Homo sapiens: one gene and its partners. The protein of the gene in region 5 purifies or fractionates together with the protein of the main gene of each other region. This does not show direct contact. Each region holds a gene or a part of one and is shown on either strand. Other genes may lie near its edges.

What was found.
Region 1: the proteins of CRABP2 (region 5) and CGREF1 purify together in Homo sapiens (co-immunoprecipitation; one large-scale study listed by IntAct). This does not show direct contact.
Region 2: the proteins of CRABP2 (region 5) and HEBP1 fractionate together in Homo sapiens (co-fractionation; one large-scale study listed by BioGRID). This does not show direct contact.
Region 3: the proteins of CRABP2 (region 5) and ARL3 fractionate together in Homo sapiens (co-fractionation; one large-scale study listed by BioGRID). This does not show direct contact.
Region 4: the proteins of CRABP2 (region 5) and OLFM4 purify together in Homo sapiens (co-immunoprecipitation; one large-scale study listed by IntAct). This does not show direct contact.
Region 6: the proteins of CRABP2 (region 5) and ISOC1 fractionate together in Homo sapiens (co-fractionation; one large-scale study listed by BioGRID). This does not show direct contact.
Region 7: the proteins of CRABP2 (region 5) and ASB9 purify together in Homo sapiens (co-immunoprecipitation; one large-scale study listed by IntAct). This does not show direct contact.

The regions. Positions count from the first base shown.
Region 1 is NC_000002.12:27,111,927-27,116,605, reverse strand, and holds part of CGREF1 (cell growth regulator with EF hand domain protein 1 isoform a precursor), read left to right. Parts: exon of another isoform or gene 1-1,982; intron 1,983-4,679. UniProt on the Homo sapiens protein: Mediates cell-cell adhesion in a calcium-dependent manner. Able to inhibit growth in several cell lines.
Region 2 is NC_000012.12:12,993,058-12,997,736, forward strand, and holds part of HEBP1 (heme-binding protein 1), read right to left. Parts: intron 1-4,679.
Region 3 is NC_000010.11:102,686,391-102,691,069, forward strand, and holds part of ARL3 (ADP-ribosylation factor-like protein 3), read right to left. Parts: intron 3,554-4,679; coding exon 3,503-3,553; intron 1-3,502. UniProt on the Homo sapiens protein: Small GTP-binding protein which cycles between an inactive GDP-bound and an active GTP-bound form, and the rate of cycling is regulated by guanine nucleotide exchange factors (GEF) and GTPase-activating proteins (GAP).
Region 4 is NC_000013.11:53,048,677-53,053,228, reverse strand, and holds the end of OLFM4 (olfactomedin-4 precursor), read right to left. Parts: intron 3,261-4,552; coding exon 2,458-3,260; 3' UTR 1,172-2,457; downstream 1-1,171. UniProt on the Homo sapiens protein: May promote proliferation of pancreatic cancer cells by favoring the transition from the S to G2/M phase. In myeloid leukemic cell lines, inhibits cell growth and induces cell differentiation and apoptosis.
Region 5 is NC_000001.11:156,702,784-156,706,969, forward strand, and holds the start of CRABP2 (cellular retinoic acid-binding protein 2), read right to left. Parts: upstream 2,801-4,186; 5' UTR 2,664-2,800; coding exon 2,594-2,663; intron 1-2,593. UniProt on the Homo sapiens protein: Transports retinoic acid to the nucleus. Regulates the access of retinoic acid to the nuclear retinoic acid receptors.
Region 6 is NC_000005.10:129,111,139-129,115,097, reverse strand, and holds the end of ISOC1 (isochorismatase domain-containing protein 1), read right to left. Parts: intron 2,244-3,959; coding exon 2,097-2,243; 3' UTR 1,070-2,096; downstream 1-1,069.
Region 7 is NC_000023.11:15,249,256-15,253,934, forward strand, and holds part of ASB9 (ankyrin repeat and SOCS box protein 9), read right to left. Parts: intron 3,150-4,679; coding exon 2,999-3,149; intron 1,310-2,998; coding exon 1,175-1,309; intron 1-1,174. UniProt on the Homo sapiens protein: Substrate-recognition component of a cullin-5-RING E3 ubiquitin-protein ligase complex (ECS complex, also named CRL5 complex), which mediates the ubiquitination and subsequent proteasomal degradation of target proteins.

The DNA of each region.
Region 1 (4,679 bases), on a different chromosome or scaffold from region 5:
AGAGTGAGACTCTATCTCAAAAAAAAAAAAATTATACTGAAAGTCCACATCATTTACTTTTTTTTTTCTCTCTCTTTTTTTGAGACAGTCTTGCTCTGTGACCCCAGCTGGAGTGCAATGGCACAATCTTGGCTCATTGCAACCTCTGCCTCCTGGGTTCAAGCAATTCTCGTGTCTCAGCCTCCGAAGTAGCTGGGATTACAGGCACGTGCCACTGTGCCTGGCTAATTTTTATATTTTTAGTAGAGATGGGGTTTCACCATGTTGGCCAGGCTGGTCTCAAACTCCTGACCTCAGGTGATCCTTCCACCTTGGCCTCCTAAAGTGCTGGGATTACAGGTGTAAGCCACCATGCCCGGCCTTTGTTTTTTTTTTTTTTTTTGGTGGCATCTTGCTGTCATCCAGGCTGGAGTGCAGTGGTGTAATTATAGCTCACTGCAGCCTTCAACTCCTGGGCTGAAGTGATCCTCCTGCATCAGCCTCTCAAGTAGCTGGGACCATAGATTTGAGCCACCATGCTGTCTAATTAAAAACAATTTTTGTTTGTTTTTTTTAGAGATGGGGGGGGTCTCATTTTGCTGCCCAGGCTGGTCTCGAACTCCTGGCTTCAAGCAATCCTTTTGCCTTGGCCTGCGAAGTACTGGGATTACAGGCGTGAGCCATTGTACTCAGCCCAATCACTTGCATTTTTGAGGTGGGCTATAACCGAATGCTAAGGTTGTCAGGAGGGCCCAGGACATTCCAGATTGAGGATGGAACAGGTTGGGCAAAAGCACTGAAAAGTGAAAGTGGAAAGTATTTTAGGAGACTCCAATAACTCCTTGGTTTGAAGCAGTGTGCTATCATAATACAGCACTGGAAGATGAGTCAACAGTAACTTGATATCTGATTGTAGAAGGCCTTGAATGCCCAGGTGAAGATTCTGGACTGTAATCGAAATAGGGAGCCACTGAAGGTTCTAGAGCAGTGGAATTCTAGCAAAGGATGATTTATCTGATGTGGGTGTGGAGGGTTCTTTAAGTGGAGAAAATACCAGAGACAGGGATAACACTAAAAGGCTTGTATATTAGTTTGTGCCAGAAGTAATTCATTATTCATTTAATGTTCACTGTAACCCTGTGAGGTAAATATTATCTCCAGTATGTGGATAAGGTAACTGAAGTTTAGTGAGAAAAATTAATTTACCCAAGGTCACAGGGACACTCAGTGGTGGAGCTTGGGTTTAAAAGTAGGTCTGGCTGTTTCCAAAGCTCTGTTTTCTGTCCATTAAACATACTGAAGAGTTAAATATATGAGGGGTACATAGGACCAAGAAGAGGAGAGTGATAGTCATTCACGGGGTAGGACTCAGGACCAGGTGCATAATTTGCAGGGCTCGGTGCAAAAATGATTGAGAGTTTCAAGATAGTGACAACAGAGCATTAGCCTAAGCACAGGGCCCCTCTGAGAGCGGGGAACTTGTGACTTCACAGGACGCACACCCATGAAGCCAGCCCTTACATGGTTGGTTTTCCAATTACTATGGCAGTGTAACAAACCACCTCAAAATGTAATGGCTTAAAAGGATAATGGGCCCAGCATGGTAGCTCATGCCTATAATCCCAGCACTTTGGAAAGCCGAGGCAGGAGGATTGCTTGAGCCTGGGGGTTTCCAATCAGCCTGGGCAACATGTGAGACCCTGTCACACACACACACACACAAAAAGATAACGTTGATGTTGACTTTGCACATGAGTGCAGGCTGTGGAGACAAGCACATTTCTACTGCATTCAGTGTTGGCTGGGGCAGCTCAGAGGCTGGGGGTTAGAATTATCCGGAGCTTGGCTCTCTCCCCTGTCTGGTTGTTGGGCTGGGAAGATTTGAGCTGGAGGCTTCTCAGGCATCTGTTTCTAGGTGGGTTCTCCACACTCTCTCTTCCGTAGGGTGGTTTCGGGGAGACCAGGCTCCTTCCATGGTGGCTCAAGGTTCCAGAGGTGCACATCTGTGTGTCAAGTGAAGGGGAGAACCAGAACCAGGCATAAGCTAGGTCACTTTTATTACTTGGACTTGGAAGTCATGTAAGCACCATTTCAGCAACTCATTAGAAGCCAGTCACTAAGTCCAGATCATATACAAGGGGAGGCGAGTTAGACTCCAAGTTTTGTGGGAAGGAATGTCAAAGAATGTGTAGACAGGTTTTTAAAGCTACCACAGTGGCCTAATGAGTGAGAGGATGAGTGGATCTGAGGGGTGCTTCCCCTTTATGCCTGAACGGCTCCCCCCAGAGTCATCCTTTGGAGTTCACAGACATCCTCCTTTAAAAGGCATCTGAGGGCCGGGTGTGGTGGCTCACACCTATAATCCCAGCACTTTGGGAGGCTGAGGCAGGCGGATCACGAGGTCAAGAGATCGAGACCATCCTGGCCAACATGGTGAAACCCCGTCTCTACTAAAAATACAAAAATTAGCTGGGTGTGGTGGCGTGCACCTGTAGTCCCAGCTACTTGGGAGGCTGAGGCAGGAGAATTGGTTGAACCTGGGAGACGGAGGTTGCAGTGAGCCGAGATCACGCCACTGCACTCCAGCCTGGTGACAGAGCGAGACTCTGTCTCAAAAAAAAAAAAAAAAAAAAAAAGGCACCTGCTAGTATGTAAGAACACGTGAAGGCTGGATGATGAGTTTTGACAGCTCTGAGGGATTTAAATGACTCCAGTGCCTCCTGTCGGCCTGGGTCCTAGCAGTAAACAGATAGGGTGGAGAAAGCAATTTGAGAGGAGCCAGGTGGGAAGGGGGTGTGTGAAGCCACTGTGGGGCCGTGCAGATGAACTCTTGGAAGGAAAAAGGCCTTATTGTAGATCAGGCACTGCACTTTACACATCTTGTCTCATTAATTAAACCCTCACCACAGCCCTGCCAGAGGTGCTCTCGTCAGCCCCGCATTACAGATGGAGAACCTGAAGCACAGAAAAGCCGCACAGCTAGTGGGCTGCGGAGCCCAGATTTGAACACAGGCAGCCTGAGGTCAGGGCCCATACCCCCCAACTTTGGGCCGTACCACCTATTCCATAGCAATTCTGTGTTTTTCTTGCGTTAACATTTGTATCTTTTCCTACTTACATATTTGCAAGCTTTAGGGGGAAAAAGAAAAAGTAATTCGACCTTAAGAGATCAGCTTAGTGATAAGAGAGTGCCTCACATATGGCAGGTGTTCAATAAATATTAAAGAAATGAATATTTATCCTTATTGTACAAACTTATATCTAACTTGCCTTCCCTACGGATGCTTGCCCTCTGGTCTTTGTCATGTGGCAGCTGTTGGTGCTTTCCATGGTATTCTCTGTGGCACCCAGGCCAGGGAGCCAGAACTTCTGGCATTCTCCTGGTCAACTGGCTCTCTCAGCCATTAGGCACCCCTCCTTCCACCTTAGAGACTGGAACCCTCAGCTGACCTCAGCCCCCTTCTTCAAACCAGCAGCACTCTAGATACAAAGAACTGGGAGAGGCAGCCCTCTCTCTGCCCATTCACCCAGACCCTCCTTCAGCTGCTGCTTCCTGACCTCCCAGGCACCCTGTAGGCAGGGCCTTCTCTCTAACCTTCCTGGAAACAAGGCACTCATCTCTGCGGCTCCTGGACCCCATTCAGTACCCATAGGGTTTCTAGGGAGATTTCTGTCTTCTACTTCCTGCTGAGGCCCAGGTGGTGGAACCCCACCCTTCTGGGGACCCGGGAAGCCTCCACACACTAGCGGCAATTCCTTCAGTTCTCTGTCACTTGTCTCCTCGAACGTGATTTGTGGTATATTTCATGACACAGAAGTTTAAACTTTTGATATACTCAAATCTGCTCATTTTTTCCTTTTAAACTTTCTGAGTTGATGTATTATATTTAATGGTTCTATCACATAATATGGTTTGTTCAGCCATTGCCTAAATGTTAGACATTCAGGTTGCTTACATTTGTTTGACTAATATTAATAGCACAGCTATACATATCTTTGTAATTTCTTTTCCATTTATATTCTTTTATGTAATCCCCAAGACGATATTGTTGGGTCAGAGTTTTAGGAAATTAATACACATTTCCAGACTGCTCTCTAAAAACATTTCAGGTTTATAGTTCCAGAAGCAGTAAAGGTTAATACTCACTGATTCAGTTTCCTTAGTGATTGTAAGACTATCAAAGCTTATTTCTTTTTGCATCAGTTTTGCTATTAAGTTTTTCTAGGAAATTGGCCATATCCTCTAAGTTTTCAAATCTCTGCTGTTTCTTTAGTTATGTCCCTATTTTCCTTCTTAATATTGTTTGTGCCTTTTCTATTTGTTCTTTTAGTCTTTGGTTTATTTTTTTCTGAAATGGGGTCTCACTCTGTCACCCAGGCTGGAGTACAGCAGCACAATCACAGCTCACTGCAGTCTCAACCTCCTGGGCTCAAGTCATCCTTCACCTCAGCTTCCCAAGTAGCTAGGACTACAGGCGTGCACCACCACACCCAGCTAATTTTTTAAAATTAATTTTTTGTAGAGATGGGGGTCTCACTATGTTGCCCAAGCTGGCCTCCAACTTCTGGGCTCAAGCAATCCTTCTGCCTCAGCCTCCCAAAGTGCTGGTGAGAGGTGACAGTGTGTGCCCTCGCTCGTTCTCGGCGCCTCCTCGGCCTTGGCGCCCACTCTGGCCGCGCTTGAGGAGCCCTTCAGCCCA
Region 2 (4,679 bases), on a different chromosome or scaffold from region 5:
ACCTCTGTTTCTTTTCTTTATCCTCCTTTCTTTCCTCTCTCTGTCTTTCTTTTTTTCTTTCGTTTCCCCCTCCCTCCCTCCCTCCCTCCCTTCCTTCCTTCCTTCCTTCCTCTCTCTCTCTCTCTTTCTTTCTCTTTCTTACAGGGTCTCATGGTTGCTCAAGCTGGAGTGCAGTGGTACAATCTTGGCTCACTGTAACTTCAGCCTCCTGGGCTCACGTGATCCTCCCACCTCATCCTCCTAAGTAGCTGGGACTACAGGTGTGTGCCACCATGCCCAGCTAATTTTTTTTGTATTTTGTTTTCTCTGTCTTCTTTTGTAGAGACAGGGTTTCACCACGTTGCCCAAGCTGGTCTCAAACTTCTGAGCTCATGCGATCCACCTATGTCAGCCTTCCAAAGTGTCTTTGCTTTTTTTTTTTTTCTTTTCCTCTCTCTCTCTCTCTCTCTCTCTCTCTCTCTTTCAGATGGGGTCTTGCAATGTTGCCCAGTCTGTAACCTCTCTCTTTAGCCACTGTGTTAGATACTTTGGGCGGACAGTTGTATGCCCATATCAAATTCAGAATAGAGGTATCAGAAGTCATTTTACGCAGTTACTTCTTTTACAAATGGGAAGACCAAAAACAAGATCTCACTGGAGAAAGAGCTAACTGGCTCTTTCCTTTGGTCTTTTTCTTCTTTTATTCATTTAACCAACAACTACTGAGTATCTACCATGTGCTGAACATTGTTACAGGTGCTATAAGGGAAGATGCCAGGAAAACAGAATGTTATCATCTAATGATATTTTTAGGGGGCAAGGAGTGCCAGGGCAGTATGGGAACACAGGAAAGGACCACTTAGGTTAGTTTATGGGGCATGGGTGTATGTGATAACATGTTTGGGGAGGTCAAGCTGACTTTGAGGTGGTCACAGATCACCCAACCGGACGTTCAGTCACTACTTTATTAATTCATGGAATAAACATTGTCGAAAACCTTTGCCAGGTGGTACAGATTTGGAGATTAATATGATAGGGATAATCAGGAGGATGGTGAGGAGTATTACACAAATTATTGTACAATGCAGTAAATGCTCTGATCATTTGGGGAGGATATTCCAGGTAGTGGGTACCATAAGAGTAAACGAGGAGGGGTCAAGAACAGTATGATGACTGTGAGTACAAATATTACAAATAGTTGTGGCTGGAGCAAAGACTGTCAAGCAGGACACAAAAAAGGTGTTCTGGCAGGGGCCAGATCTCAGAAGAACTCAGAGGCTGTTGTGGGAGTTGGATTTTGTAACCATTAGTCCAGTGATGGTGATTTGATAGCAAGCCAGTTCATCTACTCTAAATTAGTTCAACTGACATTTGTGACCTAAACATAGGATTTTGCAAGTATGTCTGGGTCTTGAATGGAGGGTCTCTGCAGCAGAAAAGAGATCTATAAAATGGCACGAGCAACCTGTGCTCTTGGCCTGTTCTCCAGGCACAAAGTCCACAGCAAGGAAAGAAAGGCTGCCAAGAAGGGACTCCAGCTTGACTTGGAGAGCCAAGTCCCCCATGATACACCTATCATCCTTCAAGGCTTGGCTCAACTTCACCACCTCCTCCTCCTGAGTGATCCCTCCTTTCTAGGAACCCCTAAAGTCAGATAACTCTAGAGCTGGAAGGGGTCTCATGTGTCCATCAGTTCATCTCCTCCTGATACAGATGAGCAAACTGTCCATTGGGTAGTTGGGCACACAGGTCTGGAGCTCAGCAGGGGACTGGCATAGAGGCGTAAATTTGGGAGTCATTAGCATAAGGGGAGACTAGAGCTGTGAATGAGGTTGGGATTGTCCAGAGAGCATATATAGGGCACTCTACACCAATCTAACTGTGTTAATTAATCTGCTGCCTAAAGGCATTCATTCATCAAGTTCTTAACCTGCCCTTGATGATGCAGGCACCACTGAGCTTCTACCTACGTTGCCAGCCACACTCACAGCACCTGCTCTGCAGCTTTCTGCTGTTTCCTTTGATGCCATGGTCATTTCCACGCCAGGGCCTCTGTGTCTGCTGCTCCCTCTCCCTGGAGCATTCTCCTCCTGCCTTTGCCTGGTGTCTCCCTATTCATCTAACAGGCTCCAACCTAAAAGTTACTTCCTCAGAGAGGATCCTGACTTAAAATAGGTTCCCTGTGATATTCTTACCCACGCTGTACCTTCATAACACAATACTTATTGTAATTACAATTAAATGATGTGTTAAACTCCCACCTCCACCCACAAGCCCCACAGGGTAAGGACTGTTTCTCTTGTTCACCGCTGTATCTCTCTGTACCTAGATGTACCACGCCTTGCATATTGTAGGCACTCTACAAATATTTGTGAGAAAGGAGATATGCAGAGTAAAACCTAGTTTTACTCTAATGACAAGGAATACAAGAGCCATAATAGATGGGCAGAGAGATGAGGACCTCGTCTAATAGGATCTCCTGGAGAAAAGCTGGGCCACAATGTATTAAACCAGTTCTAGTGCAGGGATCACTTGTTTTCATAGCATCTGTATCCATAACCACTCATTTGAACCACGGGACCACTGTGAAAATTCAGGCTTAAGAGATGGATTTGTAAAACTATTCTAGTTCTCCAGGGAGCTCTATTTAAATGTATTTAACCAGAATTCTCTACTGCTGTAGAGAATAAGGCAGCTAAGTTAATACAGTCTTGATTCTTAAAATTTAACATCTTTAGTGCATTTGCTTGTGACATGGAACACAATAGTAGCCCTCCTTCACCCCATCTCCATTAGTCTATGCTCCCAATCAGTTCCTAGATGGAGATTTTGGCCTGTGGCTACAAAAACCAATTTTCAACATTCAGTGGGAACCTTGGTCAAGTTCAAGTCCCAGACAAAGGTTTAACAAGAATGCCTCTGGCTATGGGATTTGTAAGTCCTTTGAAAGGTCAGTTTTTTTCTTGCCACTTCATGTAGTGGGTATACATGCTAATGTTGGAAACCTGCTTTCTCATTACAAGAAAATACTGATCATAACAATTAACCTAACAGAGTACTTTCTATTTGTCTGGTGTTATTTTAAATGCTTTACGTGGATTCATTCATTCAATTTCTCCAATAACCCTGTGAAGAAGTTAGGGCTTTAATCTTCATTTTCAGATGAAACTGGGGAACAAGAGGTTAAGTAACATGCCCAAACTGCAGCGGGTGAATAGTGGAGCCAGGACTCAAAGCCAGGCTATCAGGTCCTAACCTGTGTGCACAGGCCGGACACAAATCTGATTAAGGATGTCAGTTACTAATATCAGTTCTGCTGTGAGCATCCAAAGGCCCACCCAATCCAACACAGAGAGCTGTCTACCCTCCTCCCTCCCTGAGCAATTAAGAAGGCACCTGATAAGGTCTGCGGCAGCACTGGCCTCCCTGCCAAGTACTTGGAATCAGTCCCCAACATCTGGTGAGCCTGAAGCCCATGCTATGTGGGGAATATGGTATGCCATCATTTGCCCAGGAGAGTGGACAATAGTTTCTGACCCAGGCTGTTTCCAGGATAAAATATAATTTCAGGGAGAGGTTCTCTTCAAAAATAATACCTTTATGTTTGTATATTTAAAAAAAAAAAGGTTTACAAGTATCTATGCATAATTAATTAATTTCACATTGGCATTGTTATTCTCATCTTAGAGTTGAGGAATTCAAGGGCTCACGGGATGTTAAGTAATTTACCCAAACTTTACTGTAAAACTACAGTAAAGCTAACCATTACCATCTCCAACCAAGTACTAACATTGAACAGTTTTATAATTGGTTATCTCATTTGAACTTCAAAACAATCTATTAATATATGAACTATTATTTTCTTCCACAATTAGCTTCAGAGGGGCTAAGTTGGCCTGTGACCACACAGCTAGAAAGAATGAAGCTGAGATGAGCACTGATATAATGCTATTACTATATTTGTAGGGTATGTATACTACTTTACAAAATGTTTTCATGGTTTTAAAGAATTTAATACTTATAGTAACTCTGGAAATAGATGGAAAAGATATTTTTATACTCATTTTATAGCTGTAGAAACAGGTTCATTTGGGTTAAATGATTTGCTTTAGCCTGGTACCAATATCCCATATGGCCCCATATTCCCATCAAACACTGAGAGAAGATGCTTATTAGGGAGTTCTCCTTATCCCAGAGGCCCCAAATTAACGGCAAGTGACACTGTATCAATAAGAGTCAAACAGGAAACAGAAACTACTAGAGTATTTAGAGCAGAAGCACTTCGATGCAAGGGATTGGTTGCACAGATAACAGAGGGGCTGAGATGCCAGCAGGGGACAGAGAGGCAACCTAGAGGTTAGTAAGCACCCTAGGAGACACAGAGGGAGAATTACCTGTTACCTAAGTTCAGATACCTAGGTTACTGGGTAGAAGCTAGAATCATGGTGGCCTGTGTAGCGGAAGCCAAAGCCACAGAGAAGCTCCTAGTAGTATGGATCTGATGGGGTGGAGAAGGAGGAGAAATACTCTGGTTTCTCCCTTTTTATCTCCCAGTAGAGACTCCCACTGAGCAAACGTAGCTGGGCGCCGGCTGACATCTGGCCTGGGAAACAGGCCGAATGGGTCAGCTTCCACTCCACAGGAAGACAGCAGAGCAGGGAATGGGTGAGGAAGGAATCTGAGGGCACAGGCCACGAACC
Region 3 (4,679 bases), on a different chromosome or scaffold from region 5:
GAAAAAAAAATAACAGTTAAGCTGATCAACTAGCAACTTTCAAGAGTAGTGATTCTCAAACTTTTTTTTTTCTTTCTTTTTTTTTTTTTTTGAGACAGGGTCTCGCTCTGTCGCCCAGGCTGGAGTGCAGTGGCGCAATCCCGGCTCACTGCAACCTTTCACCTCCCAGGTTCAAGCAATTCTCACCCCTCAGCCTCCTGAGTAGCTGGGACTGCAGGTGCACACTACCATGCCCAGCTAATTTCTGTATTTTTAGTAGAGATGGGTTTTCACCATGTTGGTCAGGCTGGTCTTGAACTCCTGGCCTCAAGTGATCTGCCCGCCTTGGCCTCCCAAAGTGCTGGGATTACGGTGTGAGCCGCCGTGCTCAGTCTGATTATCAAACTTGAACCTGTATAAGATTCCCCTGGCAGATTCCTGGGCCCAACCCAGAGATGCTGACTTTGGAAAGTCTGAGCTAGGGCTCAGGAATTTACTTTTTTTTTTTTTTTTTTTTTTTTTTTTGAGACGAGTCTTGCTCTGTTGCCCAGGCTGGAGTGCAGTGGCGCGATCTCGGCTCACTGCAACCTCCGCCTCCCGGGTTCAAGCAATTCTCTGCCTCAGCCTCCCAAGTGGCTGGGATTACAGGCGCCCACCACCATGCCTCGCTAATTTTTTTTGTATTTTTAGTAGAGACGGGGTTTCACCATCTTGGCCAGGCTAGTCTTGAACTCCTGACCTTGTGATCCACCCCCCACCTTGGCCTCCCAAAGTGCTGGGATTACAGGCGTGAGCCACCGCGCCCGGCATAGGAATCCACATTTTTAGCAAACTCCTGAAGTGATTCCGCTACAGATGATTCACAGATCACTTTTTTTTTTTGAGACAATATCTCACTCTGTCATCCAGGCTGGAGTGCAGTGGTGCGATCACAGCTTACTGCAGGCTCAACCTCCTGGGCTCAAGCAATGCTTAACTTAGCCTCCTGATCAGCTAGCTGGGACCTCAGGTGATTGCCACCATGCCCAGCTAATTAAAAAAAAATTTTTTTTGGCCAGGCGCGGTGGCTCACCCATGTAATCCCAGCATTTTGGGAGGCTGAGGTGGGCGGAGTTCGAGACCAGTCTGACCAATATGGTGAAACCCTGTCTCTATTAAAAATACAAAAATTAGCTGTGCATGGTGGTGGGCACATGTAGTCCCAACTACTTGGGAGGCTGAGACAGGAGAATTGCTTGAACCCAGGAGGCAAAGGTTGCAGTGAGCTAAGATCATGCCACTGCACTCCAGCCAGGGTGACAGAGTGAGATTCTGCCTGGAAAAAAAAAATTTTTTTTTGTAGAGACAGGGTTTTGATATATTGCCCACGCTGGTCTTGAACTCCTGGGCTCAAGGGATCCTCCTGCCTCAGCCTAACAAAGTGCTAGAATTATAGCGATGAGCCATCACACCTGGCCCATAGAACACTTTTGAGAAAATCATTCAAGGGAGAAGACAAGAAGTGGTTTGAGATTCAAAACTTACCCAAGGTTATTACCTGCAAATAACTTTCAATGCGTGTGTGTGTGTGTATGTGTGTGTGTGTATGAAATTTAAACTGAAAATGACAATTACTTTAGAGATAATTCTGTTTCATCAATCTCTATCTCTAAAACATGCATGCACATGCTTCACATTTCATCAAACCTACATCCTAAAATAACTTTATTGGTCCATCTGGCAAGGTCCCTGATATTTAGGTTATAGGTTGGGGTCTAAACTATATGTGATTTTGTTTACAAAAACTATAGGAAAGGGTGTATATGTACTTAAATGATAGGCCCCACCTTTTCCTCATTAAATCCACATTTTAGCTACTTAAAACACATGGGCTTTCAAAGAGAACTGTATGGATCAAGAGGCAGATGACTACATAGGACCCCCTCCACCTCCAAGCTCATTTCACATGAGTGATAATCCAGAAATCATCAGGGTATGGAAGGGTGGTGGGTTGTTTCCAGAAGTCTGGAGAGTTCTCAACTCAATTTCAAAAAAAGGGACATAAACATGAGAACTGCTACCTTTGGAAGGCCACCTGTGGTCATTTAGGACACAGGCCAAGGACTCTGCAATGATAACTTTTTAAAAAACTTTTTTTTTTTTTTTTTTTTGAGAGGGAGTCTCACTCTGTCACCCAGGCTGGAGTGCAGTGACACAATCTCGGCTCAGTGCAACCTCTGCAGTGGGTTCAAGTGATTCTCCTGCCTCAGCCTCCAGAGTAGCTGGGACTGTACAGGCACGTGCCACCACACCTGGCTAATTTTTTGTGTTTTTAGTAGAGACAGGGTTTCACTGTGTTAGCCAGGATGGTCTTGATCTCCTGACTGCAAGTGATCTGCCCACCTCAGCCTCCCAAAGGGCTGGGATTACAGGCGCGAGCCACCGCACCCAGCCCTTGGCATGTGCATTTTTTCCTGTCCTTTCAGATTTGTCAAAGTTACCCCTGAATCAATTAAGTAGGTATTGAAAAATGTAAATAAAAATGAGAAGTGACTTGTTCCTCTGGGTTCGTTTTCACATGGCCTGGGAAAAAACCTGAAGAGCCTTTGGGCATGGTGCTAAGTTCCACTTGTCTGTATCTCATATATTCAATTTGATTAAAGCTAAAAAGCTTTAATTAGAAAACTGTTTAGGCTGGGCATGGAGGCTCACGCCTGTAATCCCAGCACTTTGGGAGGCTGAGGTGGGTGGATCATCTGAGGTCAAGAGTTCAAGACCAGCCTGGTCAACATGGTGAAACCCTGTCTCTACTAAAAATACAAAAAAATTAGCCGGGCGTGGTGGCGCACGCCTGTAATCCCAGCTACTTGGGAGGCTGAGGCAGGAGAATCACTTGAACCTGGGAGGTTGAAGTTGCAGTGAGCTGAAATTGTGCCATTGCACTCCAGCCTGGGTGACAAGAGTGAAACTCCGTTTTGGAGGGGGGAAAAAAAAACTGTTTAAAGAACTCTCAACTAATTTCAGACAACTGGTATTTTTGCCTGCTTGCTAGAATAACTGTCTTGTTTGAACTGTAAAGGTTAACAAACAAAACAAAACAAAAACCTCCCTCACTCTCACACATTTACAAGGTTGATTAATGAATACCCAGTTATTTGGGAACTATCTCAACAGAAGAATTAGTATTTAAAAAATATACTAGGCTGGGCGTGGTGGCTCACGCCTGTAATCCCAGCACCTTGTGAGGCTGAGGCGGGAAGATCACCTGAGGTCGGGAGTTCAAGACCAGCCTGACCAATGTGGTGAAACCCTCTCTCTACTAAAAATACAAAATTAGCCAGGCGTGGTGGTGCATGCTAATTCCAGCTACTCGGGAGGCTGAGGCAGGAGAATTGCTTGAACCTGGGAGGCGGAGGTTGGGGTGAGCCGAGATCATGCCATTGCACTCTAGCCTGGGCAACAAGAGCAAAAACTCCGTCTCAAAAAAAAAAAAGTACATACATATATATATATAAGAACTTTGATATAAAAAAGAATTATTTACCTGACCCGTCTCTTCAAATCTTTTTCTGTCTGCACTGTCGATTACATATATCTATAAAGGAAAAGAAGAAGGTTATTTCAGTGAGCAGAGATGGAAAAGACAGGGCAATTTCTGCAAAAGGAGCAGGTGATCCCCAATCAGCATATTCCAATTAGCACAACATACAGAAATTGACTGGTGAGTCTCATCTCATTTATGAAGGCCAAACAAACAAATACACAAATTAATTAAATAGGGATGCCCAGAAAATACCTTCAGCAATGCTCCAAAGTCTAGGATTTAGGAAAACCAAGTGGGATAAAATAGCTACATTTAATGGGCACTTGATGTTGTCACTAAACATTACTAGGTCTACTCTATTAACCCTCATTACAACTCTACAATATAGATTTCACTATTTTCCTTTTTTTTTTTTTTTTTTTGAGACAGAGTCTTGCTCTGCTCTGTCACCCAGGCTGGAGTGCAGTGGCATGATTTCGGCTCTGGGTTCACCCCATTCTCCTGCCTCAGCCTCCCCAGCAGCTGGGACTACAGGCACACGCCACCATGCCCAGCTAATTTTTTTGTAGTTTTAGTAGAGACGGCGTTTCACCATGTCGGCCAGGCTGGTCTCGAACTCCTGACCTCAAGTGATCCACCTGCCTCAGCCTCCTAAAGTGCTGGGATTACAAGCATGAGCTACTGTGGCTGGCCTACTTTGTTTAAATTATGTTAAGTTTAAACACAAAGCTGATATTAATAATAATACAGTAAATGATTAGTAGTAACATGAATATATCTTGAAAAGACATTTATATCTGTCAAAAGGCTGTTATTATTTCTCGGCCTAAAGAGAAATGGAAGATACCCTATCCCCTCCCTTCCATCACACTTCAAGTTTTATTTCTTAGACAAACCCTCAAATTAATAAAGCTCATGTCAGATGTTCTCAATGTCGTCTTCCCTAAGAATAACTCTGGTACTTCTAGGAGTTACTCTTAGTCTTTCAAACCTCTTTTTTTTTTTTTTTTTTGAGATGGGGTCTTGCTATGTTACCCAGGCTGGTCTCAGACTCCTGGGCTCAAGGGATCCTCCCACCTCAGCCTCCTGAGTAGTTGAGATTACAGGCATGCACCACCAGACACAGTTTAGAGAACCATTTAATTTAATACTCCAAAGCAAGGGTAGGCAAACTTTT
Region 4 (4,552 bases), on a different chromosome or scaffold from region 5:
TAGCCTTTACATGACTATACACTTGTCAAAACTCATTGAATTGTGCACTTAAAACTGGCAAGTTTTACCACATGTGAATTATACCTTATGTAATTTATGTTTATAATATATATATGTAAATTTCAAAACAGGCAGTAGCTGATGAATCTGGAGCTAAATTTCCCATTGTGTAACTGCACTGCGGTAAACCCAGGAGCCTGAATCCCTGAGTCCTTCAACCTTCCCTGCAGGGAGATTTCCTGCAGGCAGCCACTGCAGGCTGATACACCACGTCCAGTGAGAAAGAGGCTGGGAAGTGAATTTTTTCAGGCAAATGCTTCTGTAGCAGTTCAAATAAGAAGCTGATTGCTAGGGTTACCTTGGCTTCCTGCCTCCTTTCCTGAATCTTCAGAGGTCATACTGTGTACTTGGTACAAAACATTGATCTGGAAAACTGCCTAGAGCCAGATTAAATATAACATCCTGGTTTTTAACTTGTATCTCACATGACATACATGTCTTTATCTTCATATCTTGTTGCATTTTGAAGGGCATACCTGTCTCTACACTCAGCCCTGAAGAGATAGGGAAAAATCTTACTAAAATACTAAATATTATAGCTGCCATCTGTCTCAAAAAGTTTGGCAAGGATCCAAAATGAGCATTTCAGTAAGACTAACTACATCAGTCCACTGTGTCCTTCCAGCTCTAGGTCACCTGTCTTCTTACATATTCTCTTTGGTAAAGGTACTTCTCTTCCTGGTATAGCCAGTTAGTCCTTTTGCTTTCTGCCCAAGTCCTCCTGTCTGGGGAAGATCCAGAGGCTTCTGATCCATGTTCATAGCTCAATTGGAAAAGGAACATAAGCTACATAAATGTAGTCTAGCATTGGAAATAATCAGATCAGTCATGCAAATTAATAAGTACATAAGGTCATATCCCAAAAGATAATAGGGCAGTCATGTACAATAAAAGCTGCCAGAAAGAGTGGATTTTAAAGGGAAAGAAAAATGAAAGAGCCAGCCTAACTCTGGGCTCTTATAAAAGTTATTGATGTGATCTGTTGTTAGGTGTGCAATCTCCCCGCACTAGTGTTTGGGAGGTAGCCATTCTCCCAACCTCATAGCAAGATATGGACTACCCTGTTAAGAGCTTTAAAAAAAAATTAAAATTAAATAAAACAAAAGATGACTTTTTTCAAAGCACATTTTAATCATTTATTTTAAAAGGGGGAGTAAAGCATTTAAACTGCCAATCCTATAGACTAGGACTTGAACATCAAAGGAAAAATAGACAAAGACTAGATGATAAAGTCATTCAAAAGCACAGAAGCACATCACATACACCAGCAAGGTTTCCAACTACTGCACTGATTAACTAGATACTCTCAATAGCTTTTCTATAGCTCGTCCTAGAAAAAAAAATTAAATTTTCATTTTCTTACAAGTTCCAGGCTTAAACAAAGGCAAAAATTACATGCAACAACTGATACACTCATAAGTTGCACATATGCTCCAAGGTCTTTATTAGATAACAATAAATGCTAGCACTTTGTCACTGCCATCAGATTTTCTTATAGTCTTAGAGTCATGTAAATAAAAGTTCATAATGAAATTAAAGAAAATTAATTTTTCTAATCTTAGATCAGTTCCATAGAAAACTATTAATTTTTTTAAAGTAGGCAGTAGAAGGGGGTTGGTGGGGGGTGGAATTGGTTAGTAAGTCTGGTTCTAATCTTCTGAGCTGCCTTTGGAAGGAAGTTATGAGGTAGAAGATTCTACTGACTTTTAGTAAGGTGGACAATGAGAGAAAAGAAAAAGCAGGTGCCTCATCTACAGATCCTTCTGGGATTTATTTGCCATGTACAATTTAATGCATAAAAAGGCCTCTCTCCATAAAACTCAGCACTTTACAGATGTAGAATATATAAGCATGCCAAATTTACTTATCTGCCACATACAAAGCATCATTCCAGGTGCTAGTGAGGGGAAAAAAAAGTTGGAGATTTGGTCCCTCGAGGAGCTCCAGATATTAATCTACCTAACTAAGTCCCCAGGTTTCTTCCAGGCATGGAAGAATTAGTGGTGCTACATGGATGAGGACTAGTCATTGGGCAATATTTCCTGTACAAAGAATCCCTAGACGCCATACTGAGTTTTAAGTTCCTTAATTCCTAATTTAAGGCTTCTAGTGAAGCCTCCTCACAGTAGGCTTCACTAGGCCCACAGTGCCCCTAGACCTCTGACAATCCCACCCTAGACAGACTTTATTGCAAAATGCGCCTGAAGAGGCAGATGATTCCCAAGAGAACTCACCAAATCAAGACAAATGTCCTAGATCTCTAGTGTGGTAGAACTATGCACCTAAACATTGCTGCAAAATGAACACACTTTTAGACACCCCTGCAGATATCTAAGTAAGTGGAGAAGACTATTTTTTCAACAAACATTTTCTCTTTCACCCTAACTCCTAAACAGCTTACTGGGGCTTCTGCAAGACAGAAAGATCATAATTCAGAAGGTAACCATCGTTATAGACATAAAGTTTCTGGTCAAAAGGGTTATAGTTAATGCTCTGCACTTTTTCCTGCATCTTATGCATTACAATGTCTAGTTTGCCCTCTTTCCCTGTGTTTGTGTCATAATAGTAAAAAATCTCTTCTGTTCTGGTGTTCATAGTACGGGTGGCATACAGAACCCCACATACCATGAAGGCGTTAGAAGCAGATGGTTTATACTGCTTGGTATACCAAGTGTTTAGCACCTGAAGTGTGGTGTCATTGAGTTTACTAATCACCATGTTACCAGTGCTGGCTTCAGTTGAATAAATAACCCACAATCCATTCTCATCCACAGCAAAGTCAATATCTTGCCAAGCAACATTAGCATATGAAAAGCGGTTATTATAGGCAGCATTAGGGAGAGTTTGAGTCACAGCAATCGTGTTGGTGGTCAGGTTAACTCTGGCAATATTCCCGGTGTTGTACATGTTGACGTACATGTTGTTGTTGTAAACTGCTGTACCACTACCTTGGCCATAGGTGATCCGCAACTCTCGAGCATTTATATACAATAGCAAATCATCCAGTGTGTTGTACAGTCTATAATACTCCAACAGTCTCCCATCTGTATTCAATGGCGCCACCCAATACAGTCCTTTGTTTGGATGCTGGGGAGAGTAATCCCTACCCCAAGCACCATATAGATAAGAAAACCCTCTCCAGTTGAGCTGAACCACAGACGGTTTGCTGATGTTCACCACACCACCATGACCACAGCTCCCTATACAAACAAGAAAATAAAAAGGCATTTTTAGAGAAAAGGAATGACAGGATACAAATAGTTTAATATCCTAAGCACCAAAGGAATCTATAAATATTTTTCCTGTCAAGGTTCAATAACAACAGTGGTTCTGATGGAGAAGAGCCAAACCTCCTCTTAGTTCAGTGCATTCAGTCTCAATGCAAACCCAATGTCAGCTCTACAGAGAACTACATTCTGTTTCCATGGGTGGGCTTTCAATCTGGAAAATAGGAATAATGAAACCAGCAAGAACTATATTTAAAAAGTTTGGAGGCCCAGAGAGAGGAAAGGGAGACTTGGTGAATTTAATATATTTCCTTCTATCAGAAAGCATTTTGCAAATATTATCTTATTTTGTTTTTCTTATAGCAAAATCAAGGAAGCAAGATTATTCCACAATCCTACCCTATTTCTATAAATCCACAAGATTTATAGAAATCTATCCCAGAAAGAATAGTGATGAGGGAGAAGATTTTCCCAGGCAAGGCTTCATGCCCTTCCTCACTCTCCCCTTCCTTGGGACCCCCAATTGCACATCCACGCCAGGTACCAATCCTGCTTTAAGCTATTCTCAGAAGAGGATGTTTTAAATATAGCATTTTATAGATCCAGAAAGATGGTCCTATAATGGTGGGATTTCACCCTTGAGAAGCCATAAAGTTATTTTGGGGCAACATTGCCTGCTCCGTACCCAATGCACAGCCCATCAATAAATCACTTGCTGACCGTCCTGCTGCAGAGTTACATGGTGAGTCCTGCTGTTCATAACCCATATGCTATTGTGCCATAGAATGACATGCAAGTATTTCATCTTTCCATCCAGACACTGTCATTGTCACAATGTGTACAATCAAGTGGGACAAGATTCACTGGTCCACTGAATCTACATTCCCTGTAACACTTGGGTAAATAACTCAGTCTGGGCGATCAACCCTTCACATTGTACTCCCGCTGAAATGCCTGCCATCCCAGGAGTTTATGAGCTATAAAAATAAAATAAAGTTCCTCCAGTATTTTTATAATAACTATCCAAAGAGTTGAACACACATTTTCTGGGATCTTAACACTCAAAAAAACTCATGAGATGGTTTATTGGATAACAAAGAAAACCCAACTTCAAGTATATTTGAGGTCATTTTCCCTCGTCCTGCTGCTCAGAGCAGAGCAGGTGAGACAGGAAAGGAGCAGAACCTGAATTGTTGGATTTGGCCTGAAATACTTGCAGGGACTCAGAGAGCCATTGAGGAACATGAGGTGAGCTGGAGCCAAAA
Region 5 (4,186 bases):
AAAAAAAAAAGCCAATTGGGATGGTATGTGTTTAGGACTTAGCACACACAGTGCCAGGCATATGCTTAAGTTTTCAGGAAACAATAGCTATGATTGTTGGTATTATTTTTACTGATAAAAGGAAGGCAAAGGGTCAGGTGCCATGGCTCATGCCTGTAATCCCAGCACTTTGGGAGGCCGAGGCAGCAGGACTGCTTAAGCCCAGAAGTTTGAGACTAGATTGGGCAACACAGTGAGACCCTACCACTAAAAAAAAAAAAAAAAAAAAAAAGGAAAGCAAAAAGCTGGGGCTCAAAGCTCTCTGCATTAGGCACCGTACTCATCTGCCCTTCTGGAAGACTCCCATACCCCTGTCCCCTCAAGGGAACCCCCTCTGCTGTGAGAAGAAGGAATAGAAAAGGAGACTGCCCTCCCCGCTCTGTGTGATGTATCCCCTTCTTCAGGACCCCCCACTCCCCTCACAGGGTCCGGCTATCTCATTCAGCCTCGTGGATTCAGACTCTCTGTGCACCTCCATATCCCAGCCCAGATTGGACCCCTTCTCTCTGCTCCCCAGTTATTAACCGAAGTGGGGGAGATAGGAGACAGCACCCCTCTGAAAGGAAGACGTGCAGAGCAGGGGGCCTCTCTGGATGGGCTCCAGGTCTAAGCTCCACACACCCACCTCACCTGGCCTGATCTGCCGCCCTGTCCTGGAGTAGAGCCAGGGATGCACTAGGCGGGGGTGAAAGGGCCCTCTGCCAGGTAGCAGGATTTCCCTGCCCCTGATCTGGCCAACTCCCTGGACCTCCTCCAGACCTGGGTTCCTAGAGAAACAAATCCTCTTTCCCCTCAGTGCCAAAGCATACCTACCCTACTGCAAACAGAAGAGAGAGGGAGAGAGGAAGCCTTGCCCCTGGGGAGCCCAGGACCCCCATTGTTGGCTGCTGAACTCTTGTGTCTAGGAAGAAATGACAGGTCCCCAAGTCTTATTGAGATGGACCCTTGACTAGAGCTAAGAGGGGTGTGCCAGGACCGAAGTTCCTGCAGAGGCAAGGCTGGGTTCAGAGGAGACATCCTTTCAGCGAGCCCCTGGTGCCTGTGGAGCTGAGGGCCCAGCTTAGCCGGCCTTAGCTGGCTCAGGACTGTGTTTGTCTAATGGATCTGTTTTTAATCTGCCCCCTGCAGGGCCTGAGGAGGGCACGTGGCTCAGAGAGACCCTGCAGGGAGGACAAACAGACTGAAGACAGACAGCAGGATTGGGGCCTTGAATCTTACTCTTCAGCTGGGGCCTGGGGGTGTACCAGACCACCACCTCATCCACTGAGGACAGGGGCCAGAATCCAGAGAAGATGAGGAGGGAGTGGCATCTAGGCTTTCCAAAGAGAAAATTTCTTTTTGTCTTTAAGTTTAGCAAGGACAGAGCAAGAAAGACTGATATGACTCCAAGAAGTATTGTGGTTAGATCGCAGGAAGAACTAACGGCAAGGACTGATGGAGATCCCTGCTCTCTCTGCAGCATTCCAGACCTGTCTTAGATCCAGACTCACTCCTATAGTCCAGGGAGAGGGGTGCCTTCCCTCCCTCCCCTCTCGCCCAACCCAGCCGAACTACCGTCTCTCTGTTGAGTGCAGGAATTGAAGGCAGCAGGCCTGCCCTTACGCTCCCAGTGGCTGGGGTCCTTAACTAACGTCCATCTCTCCCCCAGAGTCCTCTCCCAGTCACCAGGTCCTGGCACTCTCCCCTGCCCCAGATGTCTAGCCCAGTTGGCCCAGAGGGCACACAGAAGGTGGGCTGGAAAAGTGGGAAAGGCAGTCTGGATTGACTTAGTTTTCCCCACCTTTGACCAACACACCCAATTGGGCTGCAGCCGATCTATGGTCGGGGGAGGTAGGTGGGAACCTAGATTTTTGGAAATGTGGGATTGGGGTTTCACACGAAACCATTTGTTGAAATCCAAGAAAGTGATAATTATCCCTAGCGATTTTAGAACTCTGGAGCTGCTCGCTGTATGAAAATACTTGTCTCACAGATGGGGGGTGGGGAGAGCAGAGTGGAAAGTGCAGAGGGGGAGGAAAGTGGGGCTCAGGGGGCGCTGGGGCAGCAGATCACCTCGCAGGCAGAGCTGGGCGCCGAGGGGTAATGAGCCTGCCCTGGGGATTGGGTTACCGAGGGGGGCACCGGGAAGGAGATTGGAATGTCTCCGAGCGGCTGGGCAGGGTAGGGAACCGGGCTCCCAGTCTGGATGCAGGGTTCGTGGCTCCACCAGCCCGCAGCTTCTGAACTGCAGAGAGCCAGGTGCCTCGGCCCGCCGAGTCCGGCCGCTGAGGCCAGCCTCCCCTTCCCCCAGAGGCCAACCTCGCGCTTCTGGTTTCTACGTGATTCACAGGCCGTGAGTCACCGCAGTGTTGGCACCGGTGGGCCCCCGCAGGAGAAAGCGGGATTTAGGCGTCGTGCCCAGAGCCCCGGGACCCGGACGCCTGGCACGTTTTTCGGGGATGCAGGCACCCAGTGTCTCACGCCCTGATTGTGGTCCCGCTGTCTTTCTCATCCCCAACTTCGAGGACTCCAGAGCCCCCCCTTGCCCCACCTGGGCCCTCGAACATTTCCTTACCCAGCACTTTGAGCAATTCCTCGAAGTTTTCCGATCGGATGATTTTCCAGTTGCCAGAGAAGTTGGGCATGGTGGCGGCGCGGGAGGCGGTCCCCGTAGACTCCTAGGCTGGAGCACTGGACACTGTCTTTTAGTCAAAAGAGACGTCGCCGTCGCCGGGTCGTCAGGTTCTGGAACCAAGACAAGTCCAGGGACAACCCCAAAGCTGGCCTGGGCTCCCGCGCGGACAGCTTTTATACCCTGTACGGAACCGCCCCTGCCCAGGATTGAAGTGGCCCCGCCTCCCGCTCCGCCCCCCCCCACCTGGGGGGCCCTGCGCCCCCGCCACCAACCTCTGGATCTAGCCCGCGTGTGGGTCCAGGCTTCTCTGGGGACCGAGATAGCCTTCTCCTGCGCTAGTAAGTGGATGGGGAAGCGGACGCAAAGCCAGCACTTGAATCGCGCTCTCCGCAGAGGCGGGGGGAGCTAGCTGCGGGCGCAGATGCTCAGGGCTCGTGTATGGCTGTCCCCCACCCGAGTTCCTCACGTCTCGCCTGTTCCCCACCCATCCCCAACCTGACTCGGTGCATTCAACTCCTTGGTGCCGGACACCTGGCGACCCCACCCGCAGGCGGACCCCAGATCTTGAGCCGTAGCTGGCCCTAGCTCCATTGAACCCTGAACTGGATCCAGTGGGACCACTCCGTACTCAGAGAGGGGCTTGGGAGCTGCGGGGTTCCGGGGGTTAGGGATCTAAGTGAGGCAACGGCGCCCCCTGCTGGAACAACTCGGAGAGGCTGGGCGGGGGCGGCACGGTCCCCCCACCCCTCCACCCTGCTTCGGGCTCACGTAATGCCTGGGGACTCTGGAAGTAGTCGCCAGGCGACTCGCTCCCCTTAATGCGCTGGGCGGACATTGAAGGGTTAAGCAGGAGCCCAGGGCGCGAGGCTGGGAGGGCAGAGGTCACAGCCAATCACTTGACGCAAGGTCTTTATTAAAACGCTTTCTCTGTCGCTTCACTCCCGAGACCCCGAGGGGGTCTCAGTAGGGGGAAGGGAGGGAGGCGGGGACAGAGGCGCGGAGCCCTGGCGAGCTGCGCCACCACCTAGATAGGCGGGAGGATGGGTGCCGGGGGAGAAGGCGGAGCAGGGTCTCAGGTGTCACCATCCTGAGCTGTAAAACGGGCGGAAGGAGCGACCTCCCCTCCCTTGGAGAGCGGCTTTGAAACGGGAGATCAAAGAGGGTGGGAGGAGGGCACGGCTTCCTGCAGAGACCCGAGTGGGAGTGGGCGAGACCCCAGTGGAGATGGCAGGGAGACGGAGAAACAGAAACGGAGGTCAGGCGGGGAGCCTCGGGGACAGGCCTGGGACCCGAGGCCGGAAACCGCAGAGGAGCGAAGCCTGGCGGGATGCAGTGATTGGAGCCAAAGGAACCGTCCCGGCCTGTCCAACGCGGGGGGGCCTTCGGCCCGGTGGCCCTGAGCGAACCGATGCACGTGGCCCCGCCGCATCCCATCCCCCACCCTCCCCAGACTCTCCCTCCCAGCTCCTTCTGAGGCGGAAAGAAAAACCCTACATCTGGTCCCAGCCCTGGGTCCCTGCCCTGGCCCCTCCT
Region 6 (3,959 bases), on a different chromosome or scaffold from region 5:
AAAAGAAAACTTAGGTTGCAGATGGAATAAGGTTCTGATCAGATGACCTTAAAGCACATGAGCTCTTAAGTCAGAATGAGAAAGACAGAAGAGTGAGTCAGACAGATGTGACATAAGAAAAAACAGATACACCTTCATTGGCTTAGAAGAGGTAGAAATGGGGTCAAAAAAGCCAAAAAAAAAACCAAAAAAAAAAAAAACAAAAAAAAAACATGGGTGAATGCTAGAAGCACAGAGCAGCAAGGAAACAGTTTCTTCCGTACAGCCTCCGGAAAAGAACACGGCCCTGCTGATACCTTGATCTTAGCCCACTAAGACTCATTTCAGAATTCTAACCTACAGAACTGCGAGAATACACTTGTGCCGTTGTTTTACGACACTGTTTGTGGTATAATAGTTTGTTATGGAAGGCAGGGGAAACGAAGCTGACGTCACAGAATTAGTTTCACCTGTGAAAAGGCTTCACTGTACTGGTATTTCACTGAGCCCTGAAAGGTTTGGGTGCAGTGGAGGAAAACAGTTGTCTGGAGTTAAATTCTCGCTATTTCAAATATGGTCCTTTCTGAACAGCACTGGTGGAAAATGCCCAATTTTTGGAAATGCGAAATGTCACCTTGGAAATGCAAAATGTCACCTCAGGCTGCACAACAGACCTACTGAGTCAGCATCAGCATTTTAACAAGATCCTCAAATAATTTGCATTCATATTAAAGTTTGAGAAGCACTAGGTTAAATTTAATAAAAACTTTTTAAAGGTGCAGAAATCTTTGATTCTTCTTTTTTGACACACAAATGGTTGGAAAAAAGTATTTAAACACACCAGGTTGCTATTTGTTACCACTGCCAATAGGAAAAATAAAAAAAATCTGCTCTTAATGAAGAAGGCCTTTCACCCTTTAGTAAAATCCATCTGCCCCTACGTACAAAGGATTTTCCTTCTTTGAAAACTCCCATGAGTTGAAAGATTATAAATGTCAAGATTTTATTACCTTAAATAAATATTAGAATCCCTGGAAGAATACTCATAGAGCCATCTTGTGGAGGACAAAATAATTTCAATCACAATACATTTTCTTTAATTACTTTAATATAAAAGACAGCAGTTTCACATTTCACATATTTGAAAAACATTTCAAAACCCTCTAACAAGTATTTAATGAAAATAAATTTATCGAAGAGAAACAATGACCACAAAATTAATACTACCAAATCATTACTGAGACTTTTTGCATTACAATATTTGGAGAGTAGGTGAAGAAAATATAGAACAGAACATGAACATTTTAAAATGATATTCCACCCAAGCTTTATCTTTTTGCTAAATCTTGTGGACACTAGAATATATATTCAAGATGTTGGTAAAGATATTCAGCAAGCCATACTTCAAAGATGTTAAAACAGCCCTCCACCAATAATATGGCATTGCAAACCCTTCTATCCCATCCCTTTTCAGTTAAAAGAGAGAATATTAACAGAGATTTAGTAATAGTGACCAAAATAAGAAATCAGTATAGTCAAGAAAGATATGTAATTATTCAACATCATTTGGTACGGATAGATCAATGCAACTCACTAAGTGGACAACATTGTGAGGGGAGTGGGTAACATGATTCAGAGTCCTGTGGGTAAATTCATATGCAATAATCTTATTCCAATCAATCTGTAAAGTAAAAGCACTACATCCACATTAACATTATAACATCTTACAGTAATATAAAAGCCAAATCATTGTTGGTACGTCATTTTCTTTAAAGTGAACAATTTAAGAAAACTTCACAAGAGTCTGCACTTTGGAAAGATACGATCAGAGTACACAGTAGAGACAAAACAGGCATCTTCATTGTAATTTTTTTTAATAAATAAAAGCACATTAACAAAAAAGGAAGGTAAGCAGCACCGGAAGCCTTTGACGTTTGTAACTAAATGCTGGTACTCAAATGGTCTAGCTGGTTAAGTTTCACTAGGAGGCGCAAAAAAGGAGCCGTTTTTGACTTAACATTTTAATTCTAGTAGAGATAAGAAGAGCTTGTGTGGGCTTACAGTCCTTCACCTGACTGTCCTTCACCAGTGAGTAGCATACCAGTTCTTCAAATGTCCTATACTTTGGAAAGCAGACCCGACTCTGGAGCACTCGCCTTAATTAGATTCTGAATTTCCTTGAATTTTGGATGGTCCTTATCAGCTACCAGCTGAAGCAGAACAGCCTCACTCGTGGTCACTATGATCCCGGTTCGAGCGAGACGCTTGAACAAAAAGATAAAGGCAAATCAAGAAATAAGCATGAGAATGAACACTATTTCAGAAGAGTAACACTATGCTGGGATGCAATAATTAGTGTCCTCTACTGAAACCGTGGTTCCCAGCCATACCATCAAGTTCAGTGATGGGGATGGATTTCAAGACCAGGCATACCACAAAGTCAATATGATTATTCTTAATATTAGTAAAATGGAGTAGAACGAGTAAAAGGGAACAGGTAGCCAAAGTTATGACATATATGTGCCCAGAACAGGAAAGTCATCAAGGCAAATGACTGTAAAACATGAGATGAGAGAGAGAAAAGGAATGGTTGTTACTACGTGCCCATCACTGAACATCTGGACATTTAGTTGCTGCTATTTCCTGAACACTCCTGGCAGGTTTGTGCTTCATGTCTTACTCATTCATTGACTCAAATGAGGGCTGCTTGTGACTTCTAAATTTATTAAACTTTTATTTCTATTTCTACTACTGAGATTTTTTAAAAGGTGCCTCTGTCCACTTTTCCCCCTCTGTAGTTTAACTGATAATACATGAGATCGTGATGCATATTAATACTTATGCCTGGCACCCCTGGCATTTTGTAGCTCTTCATGTTTTAAAAATCGAGGGGAGCGTAATATTTTAAAGCTCCATTAGCTGTACTACAGATATAATTGTAGCTGCTAGAACATTACATTAGTAATTTACTATCAAATTTCATATAAATTGTTTAATTGGATTAAAACTACTATAAGAATTAAAATGATGGTTCTTAATTTCTTTTTACTGCACCCAAACATCTGACCTATAGCATATGAGTCCTTCCTATAATTAACAGTTCCCTTGTCTAGAAATGACTGGTGCTAAAAGAGCTCTCTCTGTGTCAGGAGACTCCCTGGATGATAAGAGAACCACCACTACTGCTGCCATCATGAACATTTTAATACCACTAAACAAGAGTGTAAAATTCAAGGTTGTGTAAAGTTTCACTGACAGGTCAAAGAATATCCTTGCCAAACTGCCCCAGTGGAATCATAATACTAAGGACAGAAAGCTCAAGGAGGAAAAGAGAGACAGAAAGGAGAAGGCAAAGGGGAAAGAAGGGAAGGAAGAGAGCAAAGAACAGAAAGTCGGGGGTAAAGGGTAGAGAGAGGAAAGGAGGAAAATAGAAGAATTCTATAGCACAGATTCATTCTCTGGATTTATGTGTTATCAGAAATCCCAGGGAAAAAAAAGACACAAACTGTTATCACAAAAAGCATATATGTAAAAAGCATGAAAGAGGAAGTGGTTGGAAACAATTCCTAGGTAAGTCAGAGGCAAAAACCCAGGAAGCCCTTGCATAGCCAAAATATCCTTGCAGAGTGTAAGTCAGTCTTCCTTCAATGGCTGTACATCAGCAGACTGAACCTTTCCACTGGCAGACTCTTTATTTTTATCCGTAATGAAGTATAAGGGAGTATAAGCCATAACCTACTTGTCAGAAAGCAAGCTTGGACCTTAATGACCAGTACAGAAAAGGGTGCAGAGCAGCTAACCAGAACTTTGCAGCAATTTTTTAAAAAAAACAAAATAAAACAAAACAAAAACAGCAGCTATTTATGGGGGGGTTGGGGGCCTGGAGTAAGGCCATAAGCTCAGACACACACCAGGGGTGAGTTATCTCTGAGTATTTTTTTAAGACTTCTGGAAGCCCTAATTTCCTCCTCCTTGCTTTA
Region 7 (4,679 bases), on a different chromosome or scaffold from region 5:
AAGTATTAGCCAGTACAGCCTGACGGAGAGACTAGATGGTGAAATCCAGCCTACACCAAGCAGCCAAACTCACCTGGTGTGCAGCTGCCACAGGGTGTAAAACTGGACACTTGGGACTGGTGATTTGGACTTTGAAAAGCAACCAACCAACTCATGGGGGTATCCCCTGGATTGGACTGGCCAATCCCAAGATCACAGGGAAGGTGGCAAAGTTCTCCCTTTCAGGAGTAAGGTGGATTTCTAGGACTGTCCCCACCCAATTCCACTCTTACACTCTTAACAAATCCCCACCCCAGCCCAGAGCCTAGCTTTCACTGTGACATGTGGGAACATGTGGCTTTGCCTGAGCTGCCATCCCTCTGGTAAAATGAAAATCTATGTCCACTCAACAAATGTTAACTGATCTGGTCTTGTATTGTTCCTGACTTTGTGAGGGATATCAAACATGGCCCTTTCCAGGCTAGAGGCTTAAAATCTGCCCAGAGTGGCAGAGGTGGGGTGGGCAGTGGGGGAGAGACAGAGATTGCATCTCTTAATTCATAGCAATGCCTGCCAGATGAGTAGGAGGCAATAAGGACTGCAACAACATTCATTGGGAAACAGATTACTGAAGCCTTAAAGAATAAATAGGACTCAGATAATTAAAGAGGTGATGAAATGGTGTTCCAGGTGTTGAGAAGGGGGCTGGACAACAGCAGGGAGGTGAAAAGAAATAAGGGTACATAGGCCTTTTCAAGGAAAATATAATATTTGCAATGGGGCAAGTTCAATATCTAATCAAAGAGAACTGGTTAAGGTCCCAAATAGGAAGATTCAACACTAATCCAACAGCTTTGCAAGTTATGCAGGGCTTAATAATGTGACTGGCCAAATGGAGGGAGACAGAGGAAAGGGAGGAGAAACTAATAATCATTGAGGACCACCCTGAGAAGAGGCATCATCATCATCATCATCCTCCTCCTCCTCCTCCTCCTCCTCATCCTTGTTACAAATGAGAGAACTACAGTTCAAACAGTGTGAAATAATTCCCCAAGGGAACACAGTCAATATGAACCCTGACCTTGTCCAACTCCATTGCCCACACTAATTTCTCTCCTACAGCAGTAAGATGTTTAAAATACATTTAATTTACTTTTCGTTTTCTTTTCTTGTTTTGGTTTGCTTTTTGCTTTACCTGACTCCAGAAGCTTCTTGACACAGGCTCTCTGTTGGTTTTCACAAGCCAAATAGAGTGGAGTGCCCAGGTGGCTGATCTTATGGTCAATGTTGCCCCCATAAGCTATAAGAGAGTTGACACACTCCACGTGGCCTGCAGCCCAAAGCAGGAAGAAAAACAGTTACAATACAAGTTCCCTTAGCTAGAAAGACATTGCCATCCCCATTTTGCATTAAATTTGGCAGCAGCTTATCCAGGGGACCAAAAAGCTATTTCCTTCAATTAGAATCAGGAGTGATTTTATTTTATTTCATTTTATTTTATTTTAGAAACGGAGTCTCGCTCTGTCCCCCAGGCTGGAGTGCAGTGGCGCAATCTCGGCTTACTGCAAGCTCCGCCTCCTGGGTTCACGCCATTCTCCTGCCTCAGCCTCCGAGTAGCTGGTACTACAGGCGCCCGCCACCACACCCTGCTAACTTTTTTGTATTTTTAGTAGAGATGGGGTTTCACCGTGTTAGCCAGGATGGTCTCAATCTCCTGACCTCGTGGTCCGCCCGCCTCAGCCTCCCAAAATGCTGGGATTACAGGCGTGAGACCAGGCCCGGCCAAATCAGGAGTGATTTTAACCACTGCTATCAGTTAATGGTTTGACCATAGGATGCAATCTGCAACTACGGGTGAAACTCCATTTGAGTTTACTAGCCACGGTAACCAACCAGCAACTATCCACCTTTTTCAATTGTCTGTGGCTTTGTAGTTTGTCTAAGTACAGAAATTGAAGTGAGAGCTTGGGAGAGATATGGAGGAACAGGACCTGAAGGTGGAACTGAAGAATAAAGGGCACAGTGTGGGCCACGGGACAGGGAAGGAAACTTACAACCTCTCCAAAGGCAGGCCCGGGAGGAACAGGCCACAGCGGGTATAGGCAATGCTTAGAAGAAACTGCCAAATCCAACATGAGCAGGGCCCAATCTGAAAAACTAGGTGAAAGCTGAATCACACTTCCTTGGTCCAGGATGTCATATTTTTGACATTGCTCCTCTACGTTTCTCTTGCTGTATTTTAGTTCTATGTATGCAGCGAATATGATGAGTTAAGATGTTCTCAATAAATAATATTAATGCTTTGGGAGATCATTATGAGTGGGTTGGTCCAGTCAAATGGGAAGCCATTCTATGAAAGCCACTGGAGAAACAGAAAGCCCTCTGGCAAGGTATGGTCATTACGATGATGCTAAATATTGGAGAAAATAAAAACTTGTGATTTTATGAGCTAAGACTATCAGAAAAATTATGGCTTTAATGAAAAGAATTATCCCAAACTGTATGCAACATCAAATACTTTCAAAAATTGAAAGCTTATTTCATTTGGCAAACTTAAGTGTCACTGAGACAATGTTCTTTAAGGCCCTGAAATAGAAGAATATAATTTGTTTTATGAAATAACTTGATTTCTATAAGGTCACGGGTATAACAACGGATTCCACAAATATTGATGGATAGTCTACTATGTGCCAAGCCCTGTTTCAGTAATACAGCAGTGAAAAACATTCAAAATGCTCTAAAAGGGAGGCACTCAAACTTACTGTGTACCAGAAAGCAGCTGGAGGGCTTATTAAACAAAATACAGAGGGCTGAGCCCCATCCCCAGTTACTGATTCAATGGGGCTGGAGTGAGGCCGAAGAATCTGCATTTGCAGGCCAGGTCATGCTGATGCTTCCAGTCCTGGGACTCCATTTTGAGAACTACTGCTCTAAAATATATCTCCTTTTCTTTCTTTCTTTCAGCAGTAAGATGTCCCTTGAAGGAGTGGGTAGAAAAAAAAATTCTCAACAGATTTACCTCTCCTAGCAGCTTCATGGATGGGGGATGCCAGATCACTCTCAGGTTGAACGCTGGCTCCGTGCTGCAGAAGCAAATTCACACAATCCCAGCTGCCGCTGACACAAGCATTAAACAGTGGAGTGTGCCAGTCTGCTGTCACACCATTCACCTGGTAAAAGAAGCTCCAGAATGAAGACAGGAAGGGGGATGTTTTGGGTTCAAATGTGGGGTCCACCACTCTGAAGATGTTATTTAACATCTCTGAGCCTTAAATTCCTCAGCTATAAAATGGAGAAATAACTACGAAATTCCACAGGTTTTTGTGAAAAATGGAATTAGGGAGTGGCTATAAAGCATCGAAAATGTTACTCAATGTTCTATCTCCTCCATGCCCTCCCCAGGAACATGAACTTTGAAACTAGTTAGGATAATTTCAATCGCTTACAAACTAATCCCTATTTTAAACTTCTTTCCTAGACCCATCCCACACCAATTCAATTTCTTAACGGGTGCAAGAAGATTACTCTTGCTGCTGTGAGGAAATTGTTGAAATTATTAGCTGTGTAATTTAGTATATTCTTAAAGTATAATTTAGAAAACTTTAAAAAACTTGACTTTCATACAAATATAGAATTAACACATACCCAAGATTTTATTCAACTCACTCATTAATGAGGGAACCAGTAAGATGGTAAGGCTGGCTCAAAAAAACATTTGGCCAGGCGCAGTGGCTCACGCCTATAATCCCAGCACTTTGGGAGGCCGAGGCAGGCGGATTGCCTGAGCTCAGGAGTTCGAGACCAGCCTGGGCAACATGGTGAAACCCGGTCTCTACTAAGATACAAAAAATTAGCCCAGCATGGTAGCATGCGCCTGTAGTCCCAGCTACTCGGGAGGCTGAGGCAGGAGAATTACTTGAACCCGGGAGGCAGAGGTTGCAGTGAACCGAGATCACGCCACTGCACTCCAGCCTGGGCGACAGAGTGAGACTCTGTCTCAAAAAAAGAAAGAAAAAAGAAAAACGTATATAGTCAATGGACTGCTGAAATATATTTGCTAATAGATACAAAACTCCGCCGGGCACGGTGGCTCACACCTGTAATCCCAGCACTTTGGGAGACCAAGGTGGGCGGGTCACCTGAGGTCGGAAGTTCGAGACCAACCTGGGCAACATGATAACATGATGAAACCCCATCTCTACTAAAAATACAAAAATGAGCCAAGTGTGGTGGTGCGTGCCTATAATCCCAGCTACTCAGGAGGCTGAGGCAGGAGTATCACTCGAACCCAGGAGGCGGAGGTTGCAGGGAGCTGAGTTCGTGCCACTGTACTCCAGCCTGGGCGACAGAGCGAGACTCCATCTCAAAAATTAAAAAAATAAAAACATAAAAACTGGTTAATGTCCTATAGGGCCATAAAAGTATAATCTTTGAGGCTATCTTTTCTAATGTTGGAAATCAGACAGAAATTTCGAAGTTAATGTCTAACTTCACAGTGTTTGGGCTATAATTAAATAGTGAATAGAAAAGCCAAGTGCAGACACATTCTTGTATATCATTAAATGATTATCTGGTGAATCTTTTAAGCAATGATATTGTGAAGACAACGAATTCCTTCTCAAACTCTACTTCCAAGCAGGGCCAGGACCAGAGTGAGACATAAAAGTTGCCCAGGGTAAAAAATTTAAGGACATATTCAT